Linked DNA regions of Homo sapiens. The protein of the gene in region 1 purifies or fractionates together with the protein of each later gene. This does not show direct contact. Each region holds a gene or a part of one and is shown in the gene's direction. Other genes may lie near its edges.

What was found.
Region 2: the proteins of SH2D3C (region 1) and CAT purify together in Homo sapiens (affinity purification with mass spectrometry; one large-scale study listed by BioGRID and IntAct). This does not show direct contact.
Region 3: the proteins of SH2D3C (region 1) and TBCD purify together in Homo sapiens (affinity purification with mass spectrometry; one large-scale study listed by BioGRID and IntAct). This does not show direct contact.
Region 4: the proteins of SH2D3C (region 1) and NQO1 purify together in Homo sapiens (affinity purification with mass spectrometry; one large-scale study listed by BioGRID and IntAct). This does not show direct contact.
Region 5: the proteins of SH2D3C (region 1) and ALDH1A3 purify together in Homo sapiens (affinity purification with mass spectrometry; one large-scale study listed by BioGRID and IntAct). This does not show direct contact.
Region 6: the proteins of SH2D3C (region 1) and PGM3 purify together in Homo sapiens (affinity purification with mass spectrometry; one large-scale study listed by BioGRID and IntAct). This does not show direct contact.
Region 7: the proteins of SH2D3C (region 1) and USP34 purify together in Homo sapiens (affinity purification with mass spectrometry; one large-scale study listed by BioGRID and IntAct). This does not show direct contact.

What each region holds. Positions count from the first base shown.
Region 1 is NC_000009.12:127,772,167-127,775,666, reverse strand, and holds part of SH2D3C (SH2 domain-containing protein 3C), read left to right. Parts: intron 1-1,199; coding exon 1,200-1,677; intron 1,678-3,500. UniProt on the Homo sapiens protein: Acts as an adapter protein that mediates cell signaling pathways involved in cellular functions such as cell adhesion and migration, tissue organization, and the regulation of the immune response.
Region 2 is NC_000011.10:34,441,934-34,445,433, forward strand, and holds part of CAT (catalase), read left to right. Parts: intron 1-3,500. UniProt on the Homo sapiens protein: Catalyzes the degradation of hydrogen peroxide (H(2)O(2)) generated by peroxisomal oxidases to water and oxygen, thereby protecting cells from the toxic effects of hydrogen peroxide.
Region 3 is NC_000017.11:82,758,565-82,762,064, forward strand, and holds part of TBCD (tubulin-specific chaperone D), read left to right. Parts: intron 1-3,500.
Region 4 is NC_000016.10:69,716,561-69,720,060, reverse strand, and holds part of NQO1 (NAD(P)H dehydrogenase [quinone] 1), read left to right. Parts: intron 1-1,526; coding exon 1,527-1,691; intron 1,692-1,807; coding exon 1,808-1,938; intron 1,939-3,500. UniProt on the Homo sapiens protein: Flavin-containing quinone reductase that catalyzes two-electron reduction of quinones to hydroquinones using either NADH or NADPH as electron donors.
Region 5 is NC_000015.10:100,903,831-100,907,330, forward strand, and holds part of ALDH1A3 (retinaldehyde dehydrogenase 3), read left to right. Parts: intron 1-1,692; coding exon 1,693-1,857; intron 1,858-3,290; coding exon 3,291-3,448; intron 3,449-3,500. UniProt on the Homo sapiens protein: Catalyzes the NAD-dependent oxidation of aldehyde substrates, such as all-trans-retinal and all-trans-13,14-dihydroretinal, to their corresponding carboxylic acids, all-trans-retinoate and all-trans-13,14-dihydroretinoate, respectively.
Region 6 is NC_000006.12:83,176,266-83,179,765, reverse strand, and holds part of PGM3 (phosphoacetylglucosamine mutase), read left to right. Parts: intron 1-1,009; coding exon 1,010-1,093; intron 1,094-3,500. UniProt on the Homo sapiens protein: Catalyzes the conversion of GlcNAc-6-P into GlcNAc-1-P during the synthesis of uridine diphosphate/UDP-GlcNAc, a sugar nucleotide critical to multiple glycosylation pathways including protein N- and O-glycosylation.
Region 7 is NC_000002.12:61,345,588-61,349,087, reverse strand, and holds part of USP34 (ubiquitin carboxyl-terminal hydrolase 34), read left to right. Parts: intron 1-201; coding exon 202-332; intron 333-607; coding exon 608-1,218; intron 1,219-3,500. UniProt on the Homo sapiens protein: Ubiquitin hydrolase that can remove conjugated ubiquitin from AXIN1 and AXIN2, thereby acting as a regulator of Wnt signaling pathway.

The sequences.
Region 1 (3,500 bases):
AGCTAACTTTTTATTTTTATTTATTTATTTATTCATTTTGAGATGGAGTCTCACTCTTGTCACCCAGGCTGGAGTGCAATGGTGCAATCTCGGCTCACTGCAACCTCCACCTCCAGGATTCAGGCTATTATCCTGCCTCAGCCTCCCAAGTAGCTGGGATTACAGGCATGCACCATGCCCAGCTAATTTTTGTATTTTTAGTAGAGACAGGGTTTCACCATGTTGACCAGGCTGGTCTCGAACTCCTGACCTCAGATGATCTGCCCGCCTCAGCCTCCCAAAGTGCTGGGATCATAGGCATAAGCCATGGCACCAGGCCTTACTTTTTTATTTTTTGTAGAGACAGGGTCTTGCTATGTTGCCGAGGCTGGTTTTGAACTCTTGACCTCAAGCAGTCCTCCTGGCTCATCTTTCCAAAGTGTTGGGATGACAGGTGTGAGCCACCACACCCAGCTGAGAAACATTTATTATCGTCATCATCATCATCTTTGCTAATTCTGATTGAGGCTATTCTGTGTGCCAAGCACCATGTTAAGCATGTTATTTATAATCTTTTCTTTCTTTTTCTTTTTAATTTTGAGACGGAGTTTTGCTCTTATTGCCCAGGCTGGAATGCAATGGTGCAGTCTCGGCTCACTGCAACCTCCGCCTCCCGGGTTCAAGCAATTCTCCTGCCTCAGCCTCCCAAGAAGCTGGGATTACAGGTGCGCCACCACACCCGGCTAATGTTTGTATTGTTAGTAGAGAAGGGGTTTCATCATGTTGTCCAGGCTGGTCTCGAACTCCTGACCTCAGGTGATCCACCCGCCTCGGCCTCCCAAAGTGCTGGGATTACAGGCATGAGCCACCACGCCTGGCCTAAGCTTTTCTGTAATTCTCACATTGCCCTAGTGGGTAGGTGCTAGAATCTCTATTTTACTGATGTGGAGAATGAGGCTAAGCTTAGAGAGGTCAAGTGACTTGCCTAAGGTCACACAGCTAGGATGTGAAAGAGCAGGAATTCAAGTCCAGGGCCCCGTGACTCCAAAGCTCCCATCTTATACCATTTCTAGGGGCGTGTTAACAATTTTAGAAGGGGTGTCTGGGAAACCGCCAGCCCTCTTCAGCCCCTCACCGAGTGAAACTGCAGGAATTGTTCATTATTATCACTGATGTTGACATTGTCATTAACTTCTTTTCCTTCCCTTCCCCTCTGCTAGAGTTCTTCAAGTTCAAGGGCTTTGGGAGTCTCTCCAACCTCCCTCGGTCCTTCACTCTGAGACGATCCTCAGCTTCCATCAGTAGGCAGTCCCATTTGGAGCCTGACACCTTTGAAGCCACGCAGGATGACATGGTGACGGTGCCCAAGAGTCCCCCAGCCTATGCCCGCTCCAGTGACATGTACAGCCACATGGGCACCATGCCTCGCCCCAGCATCAAGAAAGCACAGAACTCACAGGCTGCCCGGCAGGCCCAGGAGGCGGGTCCCAAGCCCAACTTGGTACCCGGAGGTGTACCCGACCCCCCAGGCTTGGAGGCAGCCAAAGAGGTGATGGTGAAGGCCACTGGCCCTCTAGAGGACACCCCAGCAATGGAACCCAACCCTTCAGCAGTGGAGGTAGACCCCATCAGAAAGCCTGAGGTCCCCACAGGAGACGTAGAAGAGGAGAGACCTCCCAGGGACGTGCACTCAGAAAGGTAGGTGCCCAGGGGCTGGTTGGGACCTGCAGGGATGGCTTCTGTTTTTTTCTTTTTCTTTTTTTTTTTTTTGACACAGAGTGTCGCTCTGTCTCTCAGGCTGGAGTGCAGTGGTGTGATCCCGGTTCACTGCAACCTCTGCCTCCCGGGTCCAAGCAATTCTCCTACCTCAGCCCCCCGAGTAGCTGGGACTACAGGCGCCCAACACCACTCTTGGCTAATTTTTGTATTTTTAGTAGAGACAGGATTTCACCATGTTGTCCAGGCTGGCCTCGAACTCCTGACCTCAGGTGATCTGCCTGCCTCGGCCTCCCAAAGTGCTGGCCGGGGCTTCTTTTTAACCCAGTACACATCTGGGTTAAAAAGAAAAAAACCTACACATTGACCAGGTGCTTACTGTAGACCAGGTACTGTGCTAAACCCTTTACTTGTAATTAGCAAAAGAAAACTGGCAAGGAGAGACTGTTACTGTTTCCACAGGACAGATGAGGAAGCTGAGATTCACAGAGTGACATCATCTGCCTCAGTCAGGGTGCATATTTGCTAATGACAAAGCCAGCATGTGAACCGAGACCCCCTGCCTTCAAAGTCCCAGTTAGCCTCTAGCATGGGCCCTCAGCTGCTGGATGGGTCCTAAACCCAGTCACTAGACCCCTGCCCTGAACCCCCTCACGCAAATCATCACCATTAGTTCTGCTGGACAATACCTCCACCTAGTCTAGAAAACCATTTGTCAGCTTAATTTGGTTATAGGGTGAGTTGAGTTCATGTAAAAATACAAATTGTGATGATAGGACAATAGCTCCCATTTAGTAAGCATTTTTACTGGGTATCAAAACAAGTATCTCACTGAAAACTCCATAGAAGATTCAATCATTAAGGCTGGGTGCAGTGGCTCATGCCTGTAATCCCAGTATTTTGGGAGGCTAGGAGTTTGAAAACAGCCTGGCTAACATGGTAAAACCCCGTCTCTACTAAAAATACAAAAACTAGCAGGGCGTGGTGGTGCGTGCCTGTAGTCCCAGTTACTCAGGAGGTGGAGGCACGAGAATTGCTTGAACTTGGGAGATGGAGGTTGCAGTGAGCTGAGATCACACCACTGTACTCCAGACTGGGCAACAGAGCAAGACTCAGTCTTGAAAAAAAAAAAAAAGATTCAATTATTAGCCCCACTTACAGATTGGGAAACTGAGACTCAGCCAAGGTTACACAGAACTGGGATTTGAGCAGGAATCTGCTTGCTTCCAGAGGCTGCACACTTATGTACCACATTAGACTCACCACCTTCTCAATCCTAGGGCCATGCCTTTCACACCCCGGGAGACCCCTCAATCCCAGCCAAAGGAGTCCCCGGCTTTTCAATCCTTAGAACCTTTGTCTCAACCACACCAGTCACATGTGCCTGTTGAAATAAAGAAAAAAAGTCAGCTGGCCGGGCGCAGTGGCTCACGCCTGTAATCCCAACACTTTGGGTGGCCGAGGTAGGCAGATCACAAGGTCAGGAGTTCGAGACCAGCCTGGCCAAAGAGACCAGCCTGACCAACATGGTGAAGCCCTATCTCTACTAAAAATACAAAAATTAGCCGGGTGTGGCGGCGGGCACCTGTAATCCCAGCTACTGAGGAGGCTGAGGCATCAGAATTGCTTGAACCTGGGAGGCAGAGGTTGCAGTGACCCAAGATCGCGCCATTGCACACTCCAGCCTGGGCGACAAAGCGAGACTCCAACTCAAAAAAAAAAAAAAAAAAAAGCCACCTGAGCAAAAGTAATTGTAGGGCCAGAGTTCTGGGACCTTTCTTTCTTTTGTTTTTTTCTGGTAACTT
Region 2 (3,500 bases), on another chromosome or scaffold:
TGAGCCTTTTTCCAAAGTGGTTGTACCATTTTATACTTCATCAGCAGTGTATGGGAGTTCCAGTTGCTCCACATCCTACCAACTTTTGGTGTTGTCAGTCTTTTACATTTAGTTGTTGGGTGTGCAGTGGTATCTCATTATGGTTTTAATTTGCTTTGCTCTGATGACTAATGATGCAAAGCATCTTTTTACATGCTTATTGACCATTGGTATATATTCCTTTGAAGTATATGTTCAAATTTTCTGTCTTTTTAAAAATTGAATTGCTTTTAAATTATTAATTCATAGCCCATATTTTAAGTTCAATCATGTGGAATCATGTGTAGGCTAAGTGTTATAATAATAAATCTCAACATGTATCATGGTATAAACATATTAGAAATTTATGGCCGGGTGCAGTGACTCACACCTATAATCCAGCACTTTGGGAGGCTGAGGTGGGCGGATCACCTGAGGTCAGGAGTTCAAAACTAGCCTGACCAATATGGAGAAACCCTGTCTCTACTAAAAATACAAAATTAGCTGGGCGTGGTGGCACATGCCTGTAATCCCAGCTGCTTGGGAGGCTGAGGCAGGATAATCACTTGAACCCTGGAGGCGGAGGTTGCAGTAAGCCGAGATCCTGCCATTGCACTCCAGCCTGGGCAACAAGAGTGAAACTCCATCTCAAAAAGAAAAAAAAAGAAATGTATTCCTTTCCTACATGAATGGCCCAAAGTGGTTTGAGGTTGAAGGAGGTGGGTGGGTGCTCTGCTTCCCACAGTTATTGAGGGCACCAGGCTGAAGGAAGCTCCCCCTTGGTCAAACATGGCTTTTATGGGCGTCACTGTCCAGCACAGAAGGCTCAAGAGCGTGGAGAAGGGTATATGAGTGTGGGAAGGTTTAGGGTCCAGGGTCACTGCCACTTACATTCTGTTGGCTAGAACTCTGTTACAGGCCACACCTGGGGTAGTCTACCCCCTGTCCAGGAAGCTGACTCTACTATATTATCCAAAGCGTACATTTCATATTTGGTGAAAATCTGTCCAGCCATTTTCTTGTGATGCGGCAATGGACATGCAACATAATTTCTTTTTAAAGAATATGTCATTTTTACTTTCTGACATTAAGATATTCTGTTAGAAAATTATGACAGTAACAGATGGTATTAAAAAAAAATCTCCCCTTGCTTGGTAAATGCTTTTATCTAAGTGGGCAGCTTTGTGCTAATATGATGTCTTCCACTTCCCAATTAGTTGTGATGCTTTACTGATCTAGGAGAGCTTTATGGTTTGGGACTACTATAGGCGAACACTCTGTTGCCTCCTCTCTCAAGAATCAGAGTGTCCTATTTTGGAAACACAGTCAACCATGTGAAAGCAATTTATTGGGCGTATCTTCTGTGGTCAGATTTGGTTTGCTGACAGGTGAATTGGGAGTTTTGTAAACTTTAATAAGTGAGCATTGAGTCAGATGTGTTCATGAGTATGACCTCGATCCACTTAAAAATTCTTATTTCTTTTTCTCTCTTGGCAGGAGGGAGGTGGTTGTGCAGGTATTCCCAGCCACTTTGAAGGGAACTTAAATGGGAACTTTATTGCTCACTGCTTAGAATGCCATGGGCTCTTCTTTTGAGATACTTACCTTTAACCCATTTCCTTTTTTTTTTTTTAAGTGCAGCTTGCTGCCAGTGCTCTTTTCTTGGGGGTAAATGGGAAATGTTAATAAGTAGCCTCTGATCCCTTTAAAATGGGAGAATTTGAACATTTCAAACCTTACCTTTTTATACAGTTCTCTTATTACCTGGGAGAGAGGTTAAGTCTTAGACTATCCATTTCTGTCAGTGAGTTGCCTATGCATTATAGCCTGTGAGGGTCTATATTTTTTTAGGGTAATCCTGGTAATAACTGCATTGATGTTACACTGCTAACATTTGGGATGGAGAAGGGGTGACTGAGTGACTTAACCCTTGGTCCACATGTGCTTTCATTTCTCCTGAAATATACCTAGGTATGGAATCGCTAAGTCATTATGTGCAGTGGGAGAGACTATGGGAGATGGGACAGAAATTTTTAAGGTTTCATTTCTTTTTTTTAGCTTTTGCATGGTGGGTAGGTCTATGCAAACCTACCCCCAAAGTCTGAGGAAGCTGAGAGGCCAAAGAAAGAGGCTGACAAATCAAGTTTCTCAGAAAGAAATGTTTAGTAGGGACTTAGGACCAGAAACCATGTCTGTGTCTTGCGTGTTGGCGAGACAAGATGGTGGATCCCATACCATTACCCCTCAGACCCAGGGCTTAATACCATAGGGAAGGGCGATTCAGAAGGGAGGTATGGCATGACTGAAGTATGATAATGTCAAGGTTGTTTGACCTCAGGGCAGGATTTATAGTAAATAGGGGCTCTTTCACAAGGAATAATAGATAAACTGGAAATCTTAAAACTGGAGTTAATCAGAAGTCAGCATGGTGGATCAGTATCTAAGACGGAATTGCTTTAGCTTCCACAGCAGTCAATATCTAGACCACCCTTATTATTTTCCCACAGACCAAGAAATTTGAAGGTCAGGACAGTCTTTGGTTTCCTGTACGTGGGTGTATACGTTGTAGGCACTTGAATCTTTGTTGAATAAATGGAGAATGTTAGGCAGTTATTTGCTAGAAAACGCTAGGCACATTCTTTATCACAGAATGAAAAGACGTCATTATGACTCCTCTGGGACTGATGGGCAATTTGCATTAACCAATCTTTTAATTAAAAGTGGAAGAATATGTTTAGGTTCTTGAAACTTCTGTGAGTGAAGGGAACTACTAAGTGGAAAGTGTAATATGTTGATAAAATATTTCACCAGATGAAGCCAACCTTACTCCTCCCAGGAAAACTTCTTCATTTATGTATTAGCTCTGGCCAAAAGAAGCCTATAAAGGCAGCAAAGTCAAAATAGAATTTTACTTTAAGTCCCTACTTCTAATAATTGTGCTAGTTTTTAGCCAAGCTAATTTCTGTGGCAGTTTTCATAACAAGTGTGTCTAAAGGTGTTTGATCAGAATTTATAAATTAAAATATTTCTCTCATTTTTTGGAGGGGCGATGCAGGGAGAGGGATAGACTGTTGCTGCTTCCTCCTGCTTGTTAGAAAGGCTCTTGGCCATATCATATTGGTCCGTGGTTTAGTTTATTTGCATGCTGAATCCACACACATTTGTTTTATGTTTGTTAGTATATTGAGCAGTGTATTAGGGATCAGGTATATAGATGTAAAAGGAGTACACAGTCTAGAGAGGAAAAATAGTGACAGGCTGGGCGCGGTGGCTCACGCCTATAATCCCAGCACTTTGGGAGGCCAAGATGGGCGGATTTCTTGAGGTCAGGAGTTTGAGATCATCAGCCTGGCCAACATGATGGAACCCTGTCTTTACTAAAAATACAAAAATTAGCTGGGTGTGGTGGTGGTCGCCTGTAATCCCAACTACTTGGGAGGCTGAGACGGGAGAATTGCTTGAACCCGGGAGGAGGTGGAGGT
Region 3 (3,500 bases), on another chromosome or scaffold:
TGGAATTCCTTTTTAGAAAAAGGAAAATGTAGTCGTGGGATGCTGGTCCTTTGTCATTTGTTGCACATTTTTCCACCCTTTTGCTTTTTTTTTTTTCTTTTTTTTTTTTTTTTTTGAGATGTAGTCTCTCTGTTGCCCAGGCTGGAGTATAGTGGCCCAATCTTGGCTCACTGCAACTTCTGCCTCCAGGGTTCAAGCGATTCTCCTGCCTCAGCCTCCAGCGTAGCTGGGATTACAGGCGTGTGCTACCACGCCTGGCTAATTTTTTGCATTTTTAGTAGAGACAGGGTTTCACCATGTTGGCCAGGCTGGTCTCAAACTCCTGACCCCCACGTGATCTGCCCACCTTGGTCTCCCAAAGTGCTGGGATTACAGGTGTGAGCCATTGTGCCCGGCCTGCTTTTGCCTTTTAATATTGTGTCTGGTGTATTTTATCTACTGAAGTTTTTTCGTGTTTGTTTTTTTAAAGAGATGGGATCTCGCTCTGTCACCCAGGCTGGAGTGTAGTGGCGCAGTCATAGCTCACTGCAGCCTTGAGCTCCTGGGATTAAGTGATCTTCTCACTTCAGCCTCCTGCAGAGCTGGGACAACAGGCACAAGCTGCCATGCCTAGTTAATTAAAAAACTTTTTTTTTTGGCCAGGCGCAGTAGCTCATGCCTCTGATCCTAGCACTTTGGGAGGCCGAGGCGGGTGGATTACAAGGTCAGGAGTTCAAGACCAGCCTGACCAACATGGTGAAACCCTGTCTCTACTAAAAATACAAAAATTAGCTGGGCATGGTGAAGCATGCCTGTAATCCCAGCTACTTGAGAGGCCGAGGCAGGAGAATTGCTTGAACTGGGACCCAGGACGCGGAGGTAGCAGTGAACGAGATCGTGCCACTGCACTCCAGCGTGGGCTACAGAGCCAGACTGTCTCAAAAAAAAAAAAATTTTGTTTTTGCAGGGTCAGGGTCACGCTGTGTTCCTCAGGCTGGTCTCGAACTTCTGGCCCCAAGCAATCCTGCCTTGGCCTCCCACAGTGCTGGGATGACAGGTGTGAGCCACTGCACCCAGTCTCTACTGAAGTTTTAGAAATATTTAGCTTGTCAAACTATCAGTTTCTTTGTGTTTGGCCTTTGGTAGTACGGTTAGAAAGTTTATTTTTCCTAATCAGTTATGTAAGCCTCATTTATTGGATGATTTAGTGGCCTCTCCCCTACTTGAAATGCCATTTTAAATCTATATTAAATATTCAAATATATTAGCCTTTGCTTTTAGATTTTTTATCCTGTTCCATTGACCTATCTGTATGCTCTTTTTTCTGGGTCATTTCGTTTGTTTGTTTTTTTTTTTTTTTTGAGATGGAGTCTCGCTCTGTCACCCAGGCTGGAGTGCAGTGGCGTGTTCTTGGCTTACTGCAACCTCCGCCTCCCAGGTTCAAGAGATTCTCCTGCCTCAGCCTCCCGAGTAGCATGTGCCACCACGCCTGGCTAATTTTTGTATTTTTAGTAGAGAACGGTTTTCATCATGTTGGCCAGGATAGTCTCGAACTCCTGACCTCAAGCAGTCTGCCCGCCTTGGCCTCCCAAAGTGCTGGAATTAGAGGCGTGAGCCACCACGCCTGGCCTGGGTCATTTTGTTTGATGTTAGTTTATATTTTGCCTGGCATCCTTTCCTCTTATTTTCTTGATGGTTTTGTAGCCCGTTCATTAATGCGGATGAACTCCGGAATTATTTTATCACTCTCCACCCTTTGGAATTCTATTAAATTCACAAATTCATGTAGGGGAGAAGTCTTTCTAAGATTTAATTTTCATGTCTAAGATCATGGTATTATGTCTCTAATTATTCACATCTTTTGTGTTCCTCAGTGAAGGTTGGTGATTTTCTTTAGATGATTCCTGGAGACTTTTTTTTAGGTTTATTTCTAGGTATGTTTTGTCTTTTATTGCTCTTGTGAAACTATTTGTTATGTGTTCTAACTAGTTATTGCTGATGTCTAGTGAAGATATGTTTTGTATACTGTTTTTGTAAATGGCAACACTGTAATGGAATATGTATGTGTAAACATACATTTCTTAACATCTTTATAGGGATATAATTACATACTATAGAGTTCACTCTTCTAAATATACATTTTAGTGTTAGTGTATTAGTGTATTACAGAGTTGTGTAACTATCACTACCACAATCTAGGCATTTTCATCATCTGAAGCAACCCAACTCCCATCAACAATTCCTTCCCATTCTCTGCTTCCGCAGTAACCACTCATCTGGCTCTGGGTTTGTGTGTATTCAGCATTTTGTGTGATGGAATCATGCAGTAGGAGGTCTTTTGGCACTGGCTTTTTTCACTTAGCATCATGTCTATGAGGTTCACTGTGTGATGAAATGTTTACTTCAATAGTTTTTCAGTCTTTTTTTTTTTTTGGAGACAAAGTCTTGCTCTGTCACCCAGGCTGGAGTGTAATGGCGTGATCTTGGCTCACTGCAACCTCCTTCTCCTGGGTTCAAGCGATTCTCCTGCCTCAGCCTCCTGAGTAGCTGGGATTACAGGCGCCACCTGTAAAATTAGCCTGGCCAATTTTTGTATTCTGAGTAGAGACAGGGTTTCACCATGATGGCCAGGCTTGTCTTGAACTCCTGACCTCAGGTGATCCACCTGCCTCGGCCTCCCAAAGTGCTGGGATTACAGGCGTGAGCCACCGTGCCCGGCCAGTTGTTTCTTCTGGGTTTTCTTAGCAGGTAAATATTATATGGTTTGTAAATAATGCTACTCTTTATCCACGATTATAAATTTTTATTCTTAGAACATTTTATTGAGTTTTAATTTTATTGAGTTTAAAATTTACCTACTATAAAATGCACCCATTTTAGTAAGATGTTTGAGTTTCGGTAAATGTATACACCCCGCGCTATCAAGATATGGAACATTTCTGTCATCCCAAGGAGTTACTTGATGTCCTTTTGCTGTCAGTCCCCTCACCCCAGCCCTAGGGAACCACTGTTGGTTAATGGTACTGTTCATTAGTTTTGCCTGTTCTAGAATCATTCAGTATGTGCTCTTTTTGTCTTCCGTTGTTAAAATAACATCTCCGGGACTTACCATTGTTGGTGTGTGTATCAGTAGTTTGTACGTTTTCTCTCGTGCTGATAAATCACAATTTGTTTCTTCTTTTTTTTTTTTGAGATGGAGTCTTGGTCTGTTGCCCAGGCTGGAGTGCGGTGGAGTGCAGTGGTGCGATCTCGGCTCACTGCAAGCTCTGCCACCCGGGTTCACGCCATTCTCCTGCCTCAGCCTCCCGAGTAGCTGGGACTACGGGTGCCCGCCAACACACCCAGCTAATTTTTTTTTTATTTTTAGTAGAGACGGGGTTTCACCTTGTTAACCAGGATGGTCTCGATCTCCTGACCTCGTGATCCGCCCGCCTCAGCCTTCCAAAGTGCTGGGGTTGTTTCTTCTTTTATCTGTTGATGGACATTTGAGTTGTTTCCGGTTTTTGGCTGTTATTAATAAT
Region 4 (3,500 bases), on another chromosome or scaffold:
GGCTGGTCTTGAACTCCTGGGCTCAAGCAATGTTCCCGCCTTGGCCTCCCAAAGTGCTGGAATTAGAAGCGTGAGCAACCGTACCTGGTCAACAGTCTCTAAAAATTTTTTTTTATGACAAGGTGTCACTATGCTGCCCATGCTGGTCTCCATCTCCTGGCCTCAAGGGATCTTGCCGCCTCAGCCTTCCAAGTAGCTGGATTACAGGCTCCAGCCACTGTGCCCAGCCAGTTTAACTCATTCTTTTTTATATATTTTTTACTTTTATCTTAATTTATTTATTTTTCTGAGACAGGGTCTTACTCTGTCACCCAGGCTGGAGTGCAGTGGCAAGATCTCAGCTCACTGCAACCTCTGCTTCCTGGGTTCAAGCGATTCTCCTGCCTCAGGCTCCCGAATAGCTGGGATTACAGGTGCCCGCTACCACACCCAGCTAATTTTTGTATTTTTGTAGAGACAGGGTTTCACCATGTTGGCCAGGATGGTCTTGATCTCTTGACCTCGTGACCTGCCCGCCTCAGCCTCCCAAAGTGCTGGGATTACAGGCTCGAACCACCGTGCCTGGCCAACTCATTCTTGTTAACAGCAAAATATCCTGTAGTGTGGATGTACCCATAATTTCTTAAAATGTTCCCCATAGACAATCAGGTTATATCTAATTTTTGCCAGTGAAAAGCATGGTGTAATACACATCTTTGCTCTTATAGCCTGAAGCTTTTAGTCTGTAGAACAGATTCCCCCAAATTGGAGAGCGAGATAAAAGATTTATGTGTCTTTAAAGTTTCAAGAGATTCTGCCTCATTACTTTCCCTAAAGGTTGAGGCAGTTCTTATCCCCACCAGTAAGGTGCCAATTTTTCTGTTGGTACAATCTTAATAACCCTGGGTGTTATTTGTTTTACATTTTGTGGGTAAATGTAAACTCACGGTAAATGTAAACACAGTACCCATGTAAACGAATGGGTAAATGTCTCATTTTAATTTTGCTTTTCCTGACAGGTCACGCAGAGCATCTTTTTTTTTTTTTGAGACGGAGTCTCCCATTGTCACCCAGGCTGGAGTGCAATGGTGCAATCTTGGCTCACTGCAACCTCCCCCTCCCGAGTTCAAGTGATTCTCCTGCCTCAGCCTCCCAAGTAGCTGGGATTACAGGTGCCTGCCACCACACCCAGCTAATTTTTGTATTTTTAGTAGAGACAGGGTTTCACCATGTTGGCCAGGCTGGTCTCAAACTCCTGACCTCAGGTGATCTGCCCACCTTGGCCTCCCAAAGTGCTGGGATTACAGTTATGAGCCACAGAGCCCAGTTGTCAACATTATTTATTAAATCAGCCACTGATTTAAATGCTTCCTTTAATCTTCAGTGCTTTTAAGGGGAAAATACATTTCTGGCTACAGGAGATGGAATGCAATAACCTAATGTCAAACAAAGCCGCCCCCTCCTTTACAGACTGCAACTCCCCTGTAGCTGAAGGTTTGCTGGTTGGTAATGGGTTTTCCGTGTGTGCTTTGTGTGTGTCTCTGTAGGCAGAAGAGCACTGATCGTACTGGCTCACTCAGAGAGGACGTCCTTCAACTATGCCATGAAGGAGGCTGCTGCAGCGGCTTTGAAGAAGAAAGGATGGGAGGTGGTGGAGTCGGACCTCTATGCCATGAACTTCAATCCCATCATTTCCAGAAAGGACATCACAGGTAGGAGGAGTTCCTCCTCCCCTCTTTAATTAGTTCTTTGCGGATCTCCTTGCCTGTGGGTCCTCTGGCCCAGCTTTGGCCCCTCTGGCCCCAGCCTCTCTTTTTCTTCTCTGCAGGTAAACTGAAGGACCCTGCGAACTTTCAGTATCCTGCCGAGTCTGTTCTGGCTTATAAAGAAGGCCATCTGAGCCCAGATATTGTGGCTGAACAAAAGAAGCTGGAAGCCGCAGACCTTGTGATATTCCAGGTATGGGGGGACATCGGAAGGGGTGTCAGGGACATTTGCGTGCTTATTGTCCTAGACATGTACCTAATTAGCTATGAGATCTTAAACAGTTACCCACTTTACTGCATTCTCTGCAAATAAGGGTGATTACTTTAAAGGTGCAGTATTACATGGATTTCACAGATATTGGGAATCTGGCTGTATTACTGTTGCATGTGTAAATGCAACTGCAAGGCCAGGCACGGTGGCTCACGCCTGTAATCCCAGCACTTTGGGAGGCCAAGGCAGGTGAATCACAAGGTCAAGAGACCAAGACCATCCTGACCAACATGGTGAAACCCTGTCTTTACTAAAAGTACAAAAATTAGCTGGGCGTGGTGGCATGTGCCTGTAGTCCCAGCTACTCTGGAGGCTGAGGCAGGAGAATCACTTGAACCCGGGAGGTGGAGGTTGAAGTGAACCAAGATTGCGCCACTGCACCCCATCCTGGTGACATGGCGACAGAGCGAGATTCTGTCTCAAAAAAAAAAAAAAAAGAAAGAAAGAAATGCAGCTGCAGAGATGATGTACAGTCCTTGAGCTTGCTTTCTTCCAGGTACTTAGTCTCCCCTTCAGTTAGCGATTCCTTCAGTTAGCGATTCCTTCAGTTAGCGAATCCTGCGGTTAGCGATTCCTGTTGGACTCTCTCAAAATTTGCAGTTCTCCTCCTTTCTCCATAAGAATCCCAAATACTTTGTAGAATAATCCATGAGACATTGACTTCTCTGCCATTGTAGCCTGCCAGCTGAAGGGGGCTTTGAAACCCTGCTGAATGTGTTCCTGCAGCAAACCACGGCCTTTCTTCTTCGGGAAGCTGCCTTACCGTTTAGCAGACAATGCTGGGATTGTGCGTGCATCTCGTCAGTGATCTTTCCTATAAATGTGACTGTACTCAATGACTTTGCTTTTACAATTCCAGCCAGTCTTTTGATATTGAACATAGAATGTATATGATCCTGGAAACCACGAGGAGGGTGGTACAGGCTGTGTTTTTTTTTTCTCTCTCTCTCTCTTTTTTTTTTTTAGTTATTCAATCAGCTACAAAACATCCAATCCTTGAAGTCCTTTATTTTACCCACAGGCCTGTTGCTAAGAATCAAAGCCACATGCCACTAGCCAGTACCCCAAAGGACGGCTTTAAAAAAAAATTAAATTGGAGACAAGGTCTCACGGTCACCCAGGATGGAGTGCAGTGGCATGATCTCTGCTCACTGCTGCCTCAACCTCCTGGGCTCAAATGATCCTCCCACCTCAGTCTCCCGAATAGCTGGGACTATCAGTGCACACCACCATGCCCTGCTAATTTTTTAATTTTTTTGTACAAATAGGGTCTCACCATGTTGCCCAGGCTGGTCTCAAACTCTTGGGCTCAAGTGATCTGCCTGCCTGGACCTCCCAAAAGGCTGGGATTATAGGCATGTGCCTTTCATATCTTTAAATCATGAATCAAGGATAAGAAAACCTCCTGGTATAGTCCTTACTCTGCTTTTATTAGGATAAGAGGTCAGACAAGACTTTCTCATGGGAAGTCCCTGATGAACCTT
Region 5 (3,500 bases), on another chromosome or scaffold:
TTTCTTGCAAGCTGTTAGGCATTTTTCTTATCACTTCTAAGACCTCTTTACATACATAGTAGAGAGATTAGCTTTCTATGAATATGACTTGTTAATATTTTTTCCAAGTTTGTTGTTTTGCTCTTTGTTATGATAATTTTGCCCCCACCCCATTTTTTTTACATACTCAAAATTATACATCTTTTCTTTTTTGGCTTCTGCATTTTGAGTCATTAGAAGGCACTCCAAGTTTGCAGGATAAGTCTCCCACATATAAAACTTTTATGGTTTTGTTTTTCCTGGTTATATCTTTGATCTATTTGGAGTTTGGCCTGGTATAAAGTGTGAGGTATGGATCTGAGTTAGTATTTTTAAACTGGGTTTGGAGTTTGGCCTGGTATAAGGTGTGAGGTATGGATCTGAGTTAGTATTTTTAAACTGGGTTTGGAGTTTGGCCTGGTATAAGGTGTGAGGTATGGATCTGAGTCAGTATTTTTAAACTGGGTTTGGAGTTTGGCCTGGTATAAAGTGTGAGGTATGGATCTGAGTTAGTATTTTTAAACTGGGTCCATATTTCATGAGATGATTGGTCAAGTGGCATGCACGGTTTATGCCCTCTCTCCTGCTCCTCCAGGACAGACCGTCATCCAATTGCACCACTGGGTTTGCTTCTTTTTCTGTTTATGATCATTGGAATGAAACCAGTTTTCCCATCTAAAAATCCCAGCTAAAGTAAACCTAGTAAAGCTTTGTCTCTCCCAGCCAAAGAGGAGGGAGACCAGCCACAGATCATGATAAAGGACAAGATTCCCATAGATTTCAGGAAGAAGGACCAGTGGAGGGGGCAGAAAGAGCATTTTCCCTCTTGAGCAGTCTCCCAAAAGGGTGCGCTTTTGACAACTGCTCAGTAGCGTGTTCACAAGCTGTGGGTCAGGCTGGTGGCACAGGGCAAACTCCAGCCAAGGAGACGTCTAGACAAGATAGCAAAAGGGAGAGTCTTTCTCATGAGCTGTTCCCACCACCAACCAAGGAGCAGCCCTGCCACCCCACCTGGAGGCTCATTCTGCTTTGTCCCCAGGGGTGTTGAGTAAGGTGGTTAGCTTTTCTTCTCGCTTCTCTGCACCATGACAGGAGAATTCCAGTAACTATTACCCTGATTCACGGTGCCAACTGAGCAGGGCACAGGGTTGCCAGGTGATACATGGCACCCAGGTAAACATGAATTTCAGATAAACAGTAAATGCACTTTTAGCTTAAGTATATCCCAAATATTGTTTTGGGACATACTAAAAAAAATTATGTGTCATTTTTCTGAAATTCAGATTCACTGGGCATCCCGTATTTTTATTTGCTAAATTTGGCAACCTGAGTAGAATGTAAAGAGTTGGGAGAAGAAAGACTGTGACCACTTCAGACCTGTGTCACTCATGGACTAACTTTGCTGCATGGAAAAGGGAGATAGAAGTGTAAATATGTCCCAAACCTCCAGAGGATGAGACTAGTCTATCTCCCCATCTCTCCCCTGCTCCAAAGAGCCCAGCTCTGTGCATCAGAGGAATATTTGCCTGCAAGGCTCATTAGTTACATGGATCATGGCTTGACAAGAACATGCAGAGGGAGGATGGCTGATCATGTTGAAGGCCACTGAAAACATGAGATGGCAGCCACTGCCCAGAAGGAAGCCAGGCTGTACTTCTTGTTTGTGTCTTGCAGATTGATCAAAAGCAGTTCGACAAAATCTTAGAGCTGATCGAGAGTGGGAAGAAGGAAGGGGCCAAGCTGGAATGCGGGGGCTCAGCCATGGAAGACAAGGGGCTCTTCATCAAACCCACTGTCTTCTCAGAAGTCACAGACAACATGCGGATTGCCAAAGAGGAGGTACAAGGGGGCTGTGGCAAGGCTACGACTTGCGGGGCCTTTCAAACACGAGTCCTTCCCTAGGGCCCAGGGATCCCAGAAATCCTTGTGATCTGAGTGTTTTTTTGTTTTTGTTGCTGTTGTTGTCGTTGTTGTTTTTTCTGTGTGGTCTTTCCCCTCTCCTTTGGGGTCCCTAGGGAAGCCGTTTTGTCCTGCCTCTGGCGAACTCCAAGCATGATACAGCAGGTACCTTGTTTGTTCTAGCTAGTTTTCACTCATGGCTCACCCTCTCTGGGAGCAGCAAGCCCTCTCTGATTTTCTAACACAACCGGTCCCCGAGTCAGTCATGCAGCCGCAGGTGGAGAACTGTTGCCACCTGTGGGTTTTGCCAGGAATCAGTTCAAGAACCTGTGGATTCAGGGCCCAAAGCCGCCTTCAGTGCCCCTAGACTGAATTTCAAGTGTTCACTCAAGGAACATGTCACAGCTGGAATTTTTATTGACATTTTCCACCACGGACGTCTTGAAAATGAGGGAAATTAAGGAGACTCCCCCACTCCCATAAGAGTGTAAATCTTTCTCTTTCAACTCCACTGTTACACTAGACGGGAACTGGTTCCCACACAGCATTTGTAAGAGGAGAGCTGGATCCCAGGAGGTTAGACCCTGGAGGTGGTATTTTGGGGCACATAAAAGGATGAGTCCCTGCCAAGGGCTTTCTGGGGCAGGTATTTCAGAGGCGTCTTCCTTGAGATTGTTATGTGCCGTGATGGCATGAAGCTCAGCTCCTTAAACATCCCTGTGACGAGAGGTCCTGGGGAACCCGGAAGGTATTTTGGCAGGCCAGGCACCATCCTGCCGGCTTATAATTATGTCTAATATTGAATCAATTACAAGCTCCCTTCAAAATCACCTTTAAATGTTCAAGCCTTAGTTCTTCCATTTCCTTTTCTTTGCTGTGTCACAAACTGTGGTGAATATTGTGTCATTCCTTCCCCTGGTAGTTATTATGGAAACGTTCTAGGGTGTCTTCCTTGGTAGAAAACACAGCTCCAAGAGGTAGGAGCACAGTCTTACAAAGTGCCTGCAGATATCCTTCAGGACAACTCCGAAAAAAGTTACCTAAAGGTTTTGTGTTCTGTGCATCTATGGGTTACTCCAAGGCTCTCTGGCTGGGTTTCTCGGAAACCCTGATGACAACAAGACATCTTAAACACAACATATATTTTTTGTTATTATTTTTTATTTTTGTTTCATGTTAATCCTTCCCTTCAGTCTCCAATGGCAATGCAGCTGAAGCAATGTTTGGACGTTCTTTCTTCTCTAATCATCGTTTTTCAGGCATGTGTGTGCTCTGGGCATATGAAAAACATGTAAAGAGAAGGAAATGCTTGTTCACAGCATGCATTTCCATTCAGTCATGCCTCTCATTGCCATTCTTGCAATTAATCATAGATTTTCGGGCCAGTGCAACCAATACTGAAGTTCAAAAGTATCGAAGAAGTGATAAAAAGAGCGAATAGCACCGACTATGGACTCACAGCAGCCGTGTTCACAAAAAATCTCGACAAAGCCCTGAAGTTGGCTTCTGCCTTAGAGTCTGGAACGGTCTGGTGAGTTGACTGTGTGTGTATTTCAGCTCTCCTGAGTTGCTTCTTGCTAAGT
Region 6 (3,500 bases), on another chromosome or scaffold:
TGAAATAGTTCCATATTTTACAATCATTTGTCAGAAGGGCACAATTTATGACAAATTCTTTACATTAGTGGGCAGAAAATTAAAAAAAGAGCAGTGGTAATACCCAGTCATTTGAACATTTGAGGCATTGGCTTTGGAACCTGAAGGTACTCTTTTCCTCCTTATACTGGCTGAGTTTTGTGATTTGAAGCTTTAGGAAGTTTTGCTTCCATCATAATTGAAACTTTGATGACAGTTCTGTGGTCACTCCATAAAAGCCCTAAATTCTAATAGGAAATCTCATCATCTGATATATTAACTGATTATGATAAGCTTAGTAATGTGAGATTTGTTTCATTTTGCTATTTTAGAAATAAATCTCAGGCTAGCTTTAAGTACACAATGTAATTGGAAATTATTATAATCTGGAAACAGCATACTTTAAGAATTTAATAGATTTTTTTTTTTTTTTTTTTTGAGACAGTGTTGCTCTGTTGCCCAGGCTGGAGTGCAGGGGCGTGATCTCGGCTCATTGCAACCTCTGCCTCCCTGGGCTCAAGCAATTCTTCTGCCTCAGCCTCCCAAGTAGCTGGGATTACAGATGCATGCCACCACACCTGGCTAATTTTTGTACTTTTAGTAGAGATGGGGTTTCACCATGTTGGCCAGGCTGGTCTCGAACTTTTGACCTCAGGTGATCCACCCACCTTGGCCTCCCAGAGTGCTGGGATTACAGGCGTGAGCCACCGTGCCTGGCCAGATACTTTTATTTAAAAAATTAAAGAGGTGAAGATCAGGAGATACAGGCTTCTTAAAAGAGGAATTCTCATAGAATTGTTTTAAATAGTGTTCAAATGTATTTTAGGCTTTTTTCCTGGCATACATGTAAATTTTCAGTCAGACATTTTTGGCATAAACTAAGGCACAACTGAACTGGCTGATAATTTTGGTAGCCTTTAGAACTCTCATTATATTTGTTTTTGTAGACCATACTTTTGATGGCAAGTTAAGTATCATTGTTTTTGTCTAGATTGGAGAAAGTTTGAATATTGGTGTTGTACAAACTGCATATGCAAATGGAAGTTCAACACGGTATCTTGAAGAAGTTATGAAGGTATTGAACCATTTTTGTTTTCTGGTAGTTTCTTAATTAAGATCATGTTTCTGTGAGAAAGATACTGCCCTCATAAAAGTGATTATGTTGTAGTGCATGAAGCTGAGCTGCTGTTCATGTAAAGGTAAAGAGAAATAAATAAGAAAAAATTTAGTTGTCCTTGATGAATAAAGGAAAACTTCTTTCCTTCCTTTTCTTGGAGTTTTCCTTTAGAAAACTTGGAATTCTTTCTCTGTGCCTTTGTAATGAATGTAAGTCTTTCTAAAGGCCTAATAAGCCAGTTTTATAGCTCAGGAATACTTTTCTTTAAGGGCCTAGAGTCACCAATTTCAAATATAAACATCAAGGAAGATAGCTCACCTATCTCCCAGTCTCAGGAGAGTTTAACTTAGGTGTTTGCGTCCAATTTGTAACTATCTACCTGTCACAGAGGTATGAAAAGTTTTATTACTCCTTTAGAGAAGGGCAGTTAACACAGGTGGCCATCCCTATTACCAAGTAAGTTTAGGATAAACTATGTGTGTGACAAATGGTGGTTTCAAGTTTTCCTATTTGAGGACTAGTGTTAAAGAAAAAATAATTCATGACACTTGTTAAAATGGTAAGGCAGACTTGATTCAGGACTGTTGTGATAGGTACAGGGACTAATGTGATGGAGTTTTGCAGTGGTAGGAGAAAGATTGGGCTCAACTCCAAATATAGTAAGGAAAAGTAGGGCTTTATAGCCAAGGAGCAGGGTGTGTGGGGGGTGGTCAGTGGATGAAAAATTACTGAGAGGAAACATGAGGGTAAGTGGGTGGTATTTTGGCTAAACTGATCTAACAGGACTTTTGCTGAAGGTAGGCCAGGGCGGTCACATATTACCTGGGGGATGGTAGAGAATGAGAACTCAGATCAGATGTCAAGAGTGGTCATGTATCAGGATGAGGGATTCTCGCTAAGCTCACTTAGCATGACTCTTATTAAAATCGGGCTATTGGAAGACATGCCTAAGGACAAGGCCTAGTCAGGCCCACCTAAACCTAACTAAAGTTTGGTCAAGGAGAGAATTTTTGTCATTAGCCATCTTTTATCTTAGCAAATTGTATTGGAATGTGTCCGCTTGGCTATATTAAAGGGTGAGCGTTTATCTTTGCTATCTCTTAGCAAATTAGCCTGTGATTGAACATCAGTTTGGCTTAATACTTATTCAGTAATAAAACTGTTTCTTACCCTTCTTTTTTTTTTGGAGAGGTTTTCTGGGGTGGTGGGAGATTCTGTTTCTAATTATTTCCCCGGTGTCCACCAGGTGACCACCCTTGGCACCACACTACTTGCTCGGAGAGTTACCAGGGTTCATGGACAAAACTGGAAGTCTGTTTGCCTATACTTTCTCATTATCGAGAAGTTTTCCAACTTTTTTGTACCTCATTTTGTACCTCGTTCTGGCATTTATACTAGTTTTAGTTACCTTTCCATTCTCTAGAAAGCAGGAATTACAAAGTCAGATTCCTGCAGGATTTGGACAGGTAAAGTGAATGAGGGCAGCAGGGGGCTAAAAACAGGTCAGTATGTGCCAGCTGATGTCAACTGTAGTCACACTCTTCAAGAGAAGCAGGAAATCTGAATTTTCATGTGATGTTCCTATTTGTTTAAAAAGAAACAGTGGCTGGGCAAAACGAAATATATCTTGAGGCTGCTAGTTTATGACCTGATTTTAATATATGGTTATAATAAGCTCATTCAAGGGATTCCATCTGGGGCCCATTTGCCTGCCTTTCACAGGGATTGGGTTATTTCACAGTACTTGGGTTATTGTTTTAGGATTTTCATTTTCTGTCTTAAAAATTTATTACAGATAAAATAACCTAGTTTAAGAAACTGTTACTTCTCAACTCACTGTCTTCCAGATGAAATATTTTTAGCCCTTGCCATTCCTGAGGTCTCCTACATCCAATCTAATGCTGATCTTTCTTTTGCAGTTTTTCTACTATCAATCTTTCCTTAACCATTCTTAAAGCTCTCTCAGATCCATCCATCCATGACTTTCCCTATTCACTATTGCTGATCCAGCCACTATTTCTTACTGGGATTAGTCCTAGAAGCCTCCTCATTCCATTTCTTAACCTTCTAATTGAACTTGCTGCTATTTGCAAACAAAGTTTTATTGGAATAGAGCTATGTTGATTTGTTTATGTATGGTCTGTGGCTGCTTTTGCACTGTAATGGCAGAGTAATTGTGACAGAGACCATATGGCCTGCAAAGCCTAAAATATTTACTGTCTGGCCTGTTACAGAAAAAGCTTGCAATTCTGCTCTAAGCTATTCTCCACACTGTAGCTAAACAGCTTTCTAAAACAGTTAGGTCATGTCACGCCCCCACTTGTAATCTTTCGTGTCTTATAAGGAGACCCTCATCTCTCTCACC
Region 7 (3,500 bases), on another chromosome or scaffold:
TCTTAAACATCTTGACTTTTAATTGAATCTTACATCTTCTTTAGAAATCATGAGCAAATGTTAACATATTTAGAGATTTTATTTTTGGCTACTTAGCATAAAGCTTTGGTAACTAGGTCAAGGAATCAAATGATAATGTCATTCTGTTAAGTCAATGTTAATATAAATTAGAAGTAAAAACAAAAAATGTATTTTATATAGGGTCACCTGCAGCTAGTCCTCAAAGCAGTGATAATAGCGATACACATCAAAGTGGAGGTAGTGACATTGAAATGGATGAGCAACTTATTAATAGAACCAAACATGTGCAACAACGACTTTCAGACACAGAGGTATGAAAATAGGTTTTTCTTCTTTTATAGGCATTTTTGGCTTTCTGGCGTGTTTATCATTTGAATTGGGTATATATACATAATTCATGTTTGGGCTTGTCCTCTCCTTTACGTAATATTTTTGACATCCTTTGAGTTTTTAATTCCATTTTGTATTGTTCAAAGGAGTATAACAAGACTGGCAGCCTTTTTAAAAAGTACAGTTTATTAATGTTGGTTACCTTTTTTCTTACTGGTTTAAATATTTATTTAAATCTATTTGTTTCAAAATACAGGAATCCATGCAGGGAAGTTCTGACGAAACTGCCAACAGTGGTGAAGATGGAAGCAGTGGTCCTGGTAGCAGTAGTGGGCATAGTGATGGATCTAGCAATGAGGTTAATTCTAGCCACGCAAGCCAGTCAGCTGGGAGCCCTGGCAGTGAGGTACAGTCAGAAGACATTGCAGATATTGAAGCCCTCAAAGAGGAAGATGAAGACGATGATCATGGTCATAATCCTCCCAAAAGCAGTTGTGGTACAGATCTTCGGAATAGAAAGTTAGAGAGTCAAGCAGGCATTTGCCTGGGGGACTCCCAAGGCATGTCAGAAAGAAATGGGACAAGCAGCGGAACAGGAAAGGACCTGGTTTTTAACACTGAATCATTGCCATCAGTAGATAATCGAATGCGAATGCTGGATGCTTGTTCACACTCTGAAGACCCAGAACATGATATTTCAGGGGAAATGAATGCTACTCATATAGCACAAGGGTCTCAGGAGTCTTGTATCACACGAACTGGGGACTTCCTTGGGGAGACTATTGGGAATGAATTATTTAATTGTCGACAATTTATTGGTCCACAGCATCACCACCACCACCACCACCATCACCACCACCACGATGGGTAAGCCTACTTCAAAATAAATATTCAGTTCATATTTCCTTTAGGGAAGTATTATATCCTATATTCAATTTGCAATTTATTCTGTATTAGTGCTATTCATTAGTAGTATAGTGCAAACTATAAATGTAAGCTACAAATAGATAATTTCAAGTTTTCTATTGGGCACATTTAAAAACACAAAATGAAGCAGGTTGTTGGCCATGCACAGTGGCTCACACCTATAATCCCAGCACTTTGGGAGGCCGAGGCAGGTGGATCACTTGAGGTCAGGAGTTTGAGACCAGCCTGAACAACATGGTGAAACCCCATCTCTACTAAAAATAGAAAAATTAGCCGGGCATGGTGGTGCACGCCTGTAATCCCAGCTACTTGGGAGGCTGAGGCAGGAGAATCACTTGAACCTGGGAGGTGGAGGTTGCAGTGAGCTGAGATCACACCACTGCACTCCATCCTGGGCAACAGAGTGAGACTCAAAAGCAAAACGTTGAACAACAACAATAAAAAACCAGGTTGTTAATTTTAATCATGTTAAACCAATAATATCCACAATGCCATTTACACATGTAATAAGTATAAAAATTACTAAGGTATTTCCTTCCTTTTTTTCTTACCAAGTCTTCAATATTTAGTGCATATTTTATACTTATAGCACTTTTCAATTTAGACCAGCCACCCTTTAATTCTTTAAAATATTTATTGATTTATTTGTTTTCTTCTTCTTTTTTTCTTTGAGACAGGGTCTCGCTCTGTTGCCCAGGCCGGAGTGCAGTGGCACGATCTAGGCTCACTGCAACCTCCACTTCCCAGGCTCAAACAATTCTTGTGCCTCAGCCTCCTGAGTAGCTGGAATTACAAGCACCCACCACCATGCCTGGCTACTTTTTTAGTATTTTTAGTAGAGATGGGGTTTCACCGTGTTGACCAGGCTGATCTTGAACTCCTGACCTCAGATGATCTGCCCGCCTCGGCCTCCCAAAGTGCTGGGATCACAGGTGTGAGCCACCAGGCCCGGCCTTTTTTTTTTTTTTTTTTTTTTTTGAGTTGGAATCTCACTCTGTCACCCAGGCTGGAGTGCAGTGGCACAATCTTGGCTCACTGCAACCTCCGTCTCCCAGGTTCAAGCGATTCTTCTGCTTCAGCCTACTGAGCAGCTGGGACTACAGGTGCCCCCCACCCCCCACCCATGCCTGGCTAATTTTTGTATTTTTAGTAGGATGGGGTTTCACCATATTGGCCAGGCTGGTCTTGAACTCCTGACCTTATGATTCGGCCTGCCAAAGTGCTAGGATTGCAGGCGTGAGCCACTGCACCTGGCCTTTTTTTTTTTTTTTTTTTTTTTTTTAAGAGATAGGGTCTCACTTTGTCACCTAGGCTGTAGTGCAGTGATGTGATCATAGCTCACCGTAGTCTCAAACTCTTGGGCTCAAGCAATCCTCCTGCCTCAGCTTTCTGAGCACTTGAGACTTAAGGTGTGTGTTGCCACTCCTAGCTAATTCTTAATTTTTTTTTTTTTTTTTTATAGAGACAGAGTATTGCTATGTTGCCCAGGCTGGTCTTGAACCCCAGACCTCAGTGCTTTTGCCGCAGCCTCCCAAAGCTCTGGGATTACAGGCGTAAGCTACTTATACCCAGCCTAGACCTACCATGTTTTATGTGTGTAATGGTCACATATGGCTAGTTGGTATTATATTGGATAACACAGGATTAGATTTTCAACATCTTGTAATAAATGCCTAAAAAAGATATGAGTGCTTATGGAAACTTTCCTAAATTGTGATTAAGAAAGGGAAATTTTACACATCTAATTTTAGGGTATTTAAAAGGGTAAGCTCCAGCATAAAACTTTTTGGTTATCTGTGAAATATACCAAATAATGTGATTCTGTCACTTAGTGGTGGTATTATGATGGGCAAAATAATTAATTTTTCTTCATTTTTTCAATCTATAAAATGGGAACAATAATCCTAGTGCTTTGGAGGCTAAGGCAGGAGGATCGTTTGAGGCCAGGAGCTTGAGATCAGCCTGAGCAACTTAGTGGGGCCCTGTCTCTACAAAAATATTAAAAACACTAGCCAGGCATGGTATCACACACCTGTAGTTCTAGATAATTGGGAGGCTGAGGTGGAAGGATCGCTTGAGTCCAGGAGATCAAGACTGCAGTGAGTGGTGATTGCACCACTACACTTCAGCCTGGGCAATAGAATGAGACTCTGTCTCTAAAAATAAAATGGGCACAATAGTATCTATCTCATGGTTTTATTGTGAGGATTTCCTGGGCTAAC